Homo sapiens: one gene and its partner. The protein of the gene in region 1 purifies or fractionates together with the protein of each later gene. This does not show direct contact. Each region holds a gene or a part of one and is shown in the gene's direction. Other genes may lie near its edges.

Region 1 (3,500 bases):
GTCTAGTTGGTTGTTGTGCACACACCACTTGTATCCTGGACAAGGTGTTTTATTGGCCTCCTGTCTGCTGGGTGTGGAGCCCTGGGTGTTGGAGGATCGAAGTTCTGGTAGGCTTGTGTCTGATTGAAAGGCTGTGCCTAAGGGGGGGTCTGTTCTTGAATCCACGTCACTTTGGGTGGTGACCTCAGGCTGCTCGTCACCCCTTCCTGGGTTCTGTGCCATTTCTTATTTAGTAACAGCTCAGATGAGGACTTGGGGCATTTGCCTACCAGCTCCACAGATGACACCAGCTGGGAGGGAAAGGCTGATACCTTGTATGACTTGATTATGAGTCAGAGCATCTGGACAGACTGTCTGATAGGCTGCGCTGAGCAGAATGCATCCGTCTGGGTCAGGAGTCAGTGCTTTGCTCACTGAACCACCTCCCTCAACCATGGAGCAGAAACCACGAGACCCAGAGTTCTGAGTTGACAGTGAGCCCAGGAGAGATCAGGCATGGAAGTGTGACTGCCCAAAGTCGAAGTGTGCTTTCTTCCCCCTATGTTTTTATTTGGTTATACCTTTTAAAGTTATTATTAAAAGTCTAATATATACATATTTAAAGAAAACTTAGCCAACTCAGATAAGTAGTAAGAATTTAAAAATGAGGCCGGGTGCGGTGGTTCATGCCTGTAATCCCAGCACTTTGAGAGGCCAGGGCCGATGGATCACTTGAGGTCAGGAGTTCAAGACTAGCCTGGCCAACATGGTGAAACCCCATCTCCACTAAAAATCCAAAAATTAGCCAGGCATGGCGGTGGGCACCTGTAATCCTAGCTACTCAGGAGACTGAGAGAGGAGAATCACTTGAACCTGGGAGGTGGAGGTTGCAGTGAGCCGAGATCGTGCCATTGCACTCCAGCCTGGGTGACAGAGCGAGACTCTGTCTCAAAAAAAATTTTTTTTAATAAAAATGACACAAATACCCCTACAAAGACATTTTAACAATTTGGTATTGCCTATGCATGTTTTCTAAAAAAATTTTTTTCCTCATTACCACATTTAGGAAGCTTTTCTTTTTGAAGTCACACAATATAGAAATGTACAGTGTAAAATGTGAAACTTCTGAAATTCCCTCTCCCAGATTTTAGAGCCTCTATAAATAGTTTTGTTTATATTCTCCCACAAGTCTTGTGTGTGTGTTCTGCTGTTTGTGTGCACACCTATTCTCCTCCAAATGGAATCATCACTAATTCCACTCTGCAGTAAAGATATGATTTTATTAATGAACTTATCAAACATTTATTAGATATCATACCTCATGCTAGATTTGTGGAGCAAGACAGACCCCCTTCCCTCCCCTATCACAGGAGTCTGGGAGGGAGGTGTTGGAGAGGGATCTCCCAGAATTACTCCAAGGAGATGCCTGAGCTGAATTTCGAAGGGCAGGAGTGACTATTTTTTTTTTTTCTGAGATAGGGTCTTGCTCTGTCGCCTAGGCTGGAGTGCAGTGGCGCGATCTCGGCTCACTGCAACCTCTGCCTCCCGGGTTTGAGCAATTCTCCTGCCTCAGCCTTCCAAGCAGCTGGAATTACAGGTGTGCGCCACTGCGCCAGGCTAATTTTTGTATTTTTAGTAGAGATGGCGGTTTCACCATATGGGCCAGGCTGGTCTTGAATCCTGGCCTCGAGTGGTCTACCTGCCTTGAACTCCCAAAGTGCTGGGATTGCAGGCATGAGCCACCGTGCCCAGCCTATTTTTTTCATTTAACATTCTATCTTAGATAGCTTTTCCATGTCATTATCTACTTTTTGAAAAACGATTTTTGATTGCCTTATAAGCTTTCATCGAGGGAACATATCATTCTTTCCATCTTCTTATTTTAATCGTTTTATTGTTTGGGTGTGTTACTTGAATGCATCATTGGACAATTAATAGAAAAAGAGCAAACAGAATGAGGAAGGTAATTGGCAAGCAGACCCTGTGGAGGCCACGCTAGTCAGACCTCTTGTGGGTTATGCTGGTGAATTCTGGAAACGGTGTCTTCAAGGGAAGATGACTAAGGGTGAGATGGAACCAGATGGCCAGGGTTTAGAAAACATTTTGTTTGAATGATCAGAGGAGTTGAGCATGTTTAGCCAGAGGAGGTGCAGACTGAGAGAGCACACGAGCACCGATGTAGAGCTTCCACTGGAGCGTCTCCTGAGTGGGGAAACTAGGCTGGTTCTGTTGCAGTGCTAATTAGTGCAGAGGTGATTGCAGTGCTGATCACACTTGGTGGAAGGAAGAGCTTCCTAATACTCGTACTAAGGAAAATGCTATTTCTTCCAAAAGGATGGTCTCGCGAGGATGAGAGGTGGGTGACATGCCCTGCAGAATCTGTCTCGGCTCTGAGAATCCAATTTCAAGGGTAGATCCAGCAGTTCTCCCCTCGCTTGTATCCTATTCCCCCAGGATAGAGTCTGGTTCTAATAGAGGACACAGACTTCCTGGTGCCCTCCCCTGGGGGTGGGGCCCCTCTGTTTGCATAGTTGGTCCTTTCCCCAAAACAGGTGCTCAGATTTGTAGCCATGGAAGCGTGTTTTAGAACTTACCCAGTTCTAGAGGCTGCAGGCAGGCTTGGGTTTTTCCCACTAGCTTCTGCAGATCCCTGGGTCCACCAAGTCAGAAACAGACTGTGGCACCTCCATGCCATGAAATATGACTCAGCACTGAAAAGGAACAAGCTGATGGATGCAACAACTTGAAAGACCTCCAGGGAATTTTGTGCAGTTAAAAAAAAAGCCAACAGTCCCATACATACCATATTATTTATTTATATAATATAATGGGTTTTTTTTTTTTTTTTTTTTTTGAGACAGAGTCCTGCTCTGTCCCAGGCTGGAGTACAGCGGTGTGATCTGGGCTCACTGCAACCTCCGCCTCCCTGGTTCAAGCGATTCTCCTGCCTCAGCCTCCCGAGTAGCTGGGACTACAGGTGTGTGCCACCACACCCAGCTAATTTTTGTATTTTTAGTAGAGACAGGGTTTCGCCATGTTGGCCAGACTGGTCTTGAAATCCTGACCTCAGGTGATCCACCCGCCTTGGCCTTCCAAAGTGCTGGGATTACAGGCATGAGCCACCACGCCTGGCCTATATAACATAATTTTTGAAATGACACCATGTTAGTAGTAGAGGACAGATTAGCGATTGTGGAGCTGAAGGGGTGGGGGACAGGAGGGAGGTGGCTGTGGTTACAGAAGGCCATGGGCATCCTCGTGTTGGAGCTGTTCAGAATGTTGACTGTGATGCCAGAGACAGGGGACTACGCTAGCGATGACATAGATGGAACTTAATACTTAACGTGAGTAGCGGTGAAACGGGAAGTCTGAATAAGATCCGCGGATGATACTGCTGTTGTGGTATTATGATACAGTTTTATGAGGTGTGACTATTGGGAGAAACTGGGCAAGGATCTCAGTATGATTTCCTACAACTGTATGGGAATCTACAAGTATCTCCATAAAAATGTCAGTAATGA
Region 2 (3,500 bases), on another chromosome or scaffold:
CTTTTATGGGGAAGTCTTGAGAATTTTGTTTTCTTTTTGCTTTAAAATTGCTAGATGATAGGACCATCTCTTTAAAACAGTTTTGCTGTATAACAAAGCAAATCCTGACACACTCTTTATTTTTACTATGGTGTTGATTAGTTGGACCAGATTATTGCCAGAGCAACTAATACCTGGTCTTAATGAGAGAAAACAAGAGGAGTACAGATGGTGAGATGGGAAAGAAACGGTTTTGGTAAATATCAATGGGGCCCTTTTTGAATTTTGGTGAGCTGAATGATGTATGAAAACTATTTGCAAGGCTAGCATATTTTTCAACCACTAGTAAAGCAATAAAACAAATAACATTTTTGGTAATCCCCATTGTATATGCAGTTTCATAAATATACAAGATTATGATTATCGCTGCCTCATAATTAACAATTTGCATAAGTACTTGCTATTTTTTAGTTGTCTGAATAGATTTTTGTAATCCAGAGAAAGAAGGGAACAATCAGTGGAAGCCATCCCAAATGCCTAGTATTATTGCTACACACTTGCACAATTAACAGCGATACTAATTGCTTCAGACCAGAACCTCATTTGTTTTTCTAAGGACAGCAAAAACATTAATAGCCAGAGTGCCTGTCAATCTCTCTCTCTTTTTCCTATAGCCAACTGTATCATAGGGTCTGCAGTTGACTGTAAGCAAATTATTTTGTTGGATTTTCAGTGTATCATCTTGTAATGGAGTTTCCAAGTTTCAGTTAGCAATCAATGCCTTGAACAGCCAGACTTATTTTTATAATATTTTAACAATAGACCTCTATAAAGTTAATGAATAAAAGGATGCTGACATGCCAATCAGTTCTGCTGCTGCATTTACATTCTACTACATATTTCATATCTTTAAAATTATTGGCATTAGACCTGCATATAAGAATCATAGAAAGTCCAGGCTGGAGGGGAGCTTTAAGATCATCCCGTCACACTCCCTCCTTTTTCAGATGAGTATGATTGTCAGTAATTTGAATCTTGATAACAACCACCAAATCAATGATGCCACACTTTTTTTTTTTTGTACCTTTCAAACGTTGGGAACTATTATAGTAAGTTTGAATGATAACTGGTTGTTTGGGAATCATATAGTTTCAACTTATTTTCAAAACAACTGAATCAGAATTTTAAAAATATGCCCTCATAAGGCTTACCTAAACATAGCCATAATGTTGATGGTATATGTGTGAAAGGAGATGTTCTATGCAAATCACCTGGCAATGAGACACTCAACCAATATCAGCTCTCTTTCCTTCATGCATAGATTACCTAATTAACATTACTATAGTGGAAACATTACATCAGTGACTGACAGTCTAGGCGTTTAGAGTCAAACTGACCTCGGGTCCAATCCTGGCGCTGCTACTTTCCAGCTGTGTGACGTTGGGTAATTTAGTTCATCTCTGTTGGCTTCAGGTAGTTTTCTTATATGTGAAATGTAGCCAGTATATAGGCTTGTTTTGAGGATTAAAATGAGATCGTGCATATCAAGTGCTTAGCACTGTTCCTGTCACATAGTAAACAGTCGATAATGGTGGTTATTACCATCGTTTTTTGGCATACCCAGCGGCAGCCTCACTCAATAGTATATTTAATCTTACAGTGATTTGGGGTACTTACACATACACCTGTACACATGCATATTTGGGCACACAAGTTCATAAGATTTGCATCAGAAAGACTGCTTTCCCAAAGGTTACCTGTGACCACCATGTTTCACAATTCAATGGCCTCTTCCCTGGCCTCAGTCTTCTTGACCTCTTTGGAGATTCTGGCACTTTTGCACATATTCTCTTGCTTGAAAGGGTTCATAATCTATCTTGATGTCTTCTCTACATTCCTTAGGTTTCCTTTGTTGGGATCTCTTTTCCACACGTACACACACACACACACACACACACACACGCGTGCCCACATCTTCTCCCTCCCCCACTGCCCCTTTAAATAGAGCAATTCCCAAGGTCCTGTCATTGATCTGCTTCTCTTCTGTTGCTATATTTTCTCCCTGGGTAACTTCACCTCCTCACATAGCTTCACCTTTAACCTCTACACTAATGATTCCCAAATTGACCTCTCCAACCCTTAATTCATTCCGGAGCCCCAGGCTAACTCCAATTTCCAATTGCCTGCTGAGAATCTCCAGGGCAGGATGTCCTAGGAGACTGAAAGCGTAGTCTGGCTTTTGTCATCCTTCTCAGGAATGCAGATGGAGGAATCTAGCTTCAGAAGTATTAAGGGTTGAAAACAAGGCACAAGTATGGAGCATTAGTCTGAGCAGAAGTAACAGTGGTCTAAGTTAGCAAAGTGCTTCAAACTGAGCTTTCCAGGGGAGGCATAACAGATAAACTGTGAATTTCTGTTATTATGCACTGGAGATGTCAATTGGCAGTTGGAACTTTAAAAGGTTTATATTTTCTAGGGATAAGGGAACAGCTTCCTAAGATGAAAATTGAGTTCAGTTTTTAGGTGCTGGAAGATTGGCATGTTTGGAAGAAGTGTTAATTAAAATCATCTTTCTTTTCTTTTCTTTTTTTTTGAGACGAGTTTTTTTCGCTCTTGTTACCCAGACTGGAGTTCAATGGCGCGATCTCAGTTCACTGCAACCTCCGCCTCCTGGGTTCAAGCAATTCTCCTGCCTCAGCCTCCCAAGTAGCTGGGATTTCAGGCATGTGCCACCACACCTGGCTAATTTTGTATTTTTAGTAGAGACAGAGTTTCACTATGTTGGTCAGGCTGGTCTTGGACTCCTGACCTCAGGTGATCCACCCACCTTGGCCTCCCAAAGTACTGGGATTACCGGCGTGAGCCACCATGCCTGGCCAAAATCGTCTTTCTTTGGACACTTATTATCATTAATCTTGTTTCAGTGTTTTGTTTAAGAAACGCACGTGCCAAGGGGAAAGATGATGTACTGAACTTGAATGATGAGCAGGTGGGAATTTTGTGAGAGCAAATGTGTGTGTAGACACATACACATATGCTGGGTCAGGTGTGCCTGAGATTTTGAATGTGTGCAAATAATTCTATCAGTGATAGATTTTTTTCTTTCATTCATTCTGCAGATATTTACAGAACATGCCAAGCTCTCTGTGGAGCAACACAGCTGTGAATATAGAACATATAGGGTCTCTGTCCTTAAGTGTCTAATACATTTTTTTTTGTTATATGCAGGTACATTGACAATTTAATTTAGTTTAGAAATATCTGCAACATGTCACAAATTGTTCAATGGCCATAATCTTGCTGACAATCTTAATGACCAAAGAGGAACTTAAGGGAAATAAGACAGTGTTAAAGTGGGAAAGGAATGTACATAAATCTGAATTAGAAATTGATTACTTCCTTTAAATTTAGTAAATATTGAATTGCTTTGGGGTTTTACATTTCAAGTTGGCTTGCCAGTGTTCCAGGCCAGGGTAAGAATGATTATGTCTAACCCTAAAACTTAATTAGAGTAAAGGAAT

Evidence for each region. The genes of interacting proteins can lie anywhere in the genome.
Region 2: the proteins of ST14 (region 1) and HS6ST2 purify together in Homo sapiens (affinity purification with mass spectrometry; one large-scale study listed by BioGRID and IntAct). This does not show direct contact.

What each region holds. Positions count from the first base shown.
Region 1 is NC_000011.10:130,166,282-130,169,781, forward strand, and holds part of ST14 (suppressor of tumorigenicity 14 protein), read left to right. Parts: intron 1-3,500. UniProt on the Homo sapiens protein: Exhibits trypsin-like activity as defined by cleavage of synthetic substrates with Arg or Lys as the P1 site. Involved in the terminal differentiation of keratinocytes through prostasin (PRSS8) activation and filaggrin (FLG) processing.
Region 2 is NC_000023.11:132,703,630-132,707,129, reverse strand, and holds part of HS6ST2 (heparan-sulfate 6-O-sulfotransferase 2), read left to right. Parts: intron 1-3,500. UniProt on the Homo sapiens protein: 6-O-sulfation enzyme which catalyzes the transfer of sulfate from 3'-phosphoadenosine 5'-phosphosulfate (PAPS) to position 6 of the N-sulfoglucosamine residue (GlcNS) of heparan sulfate.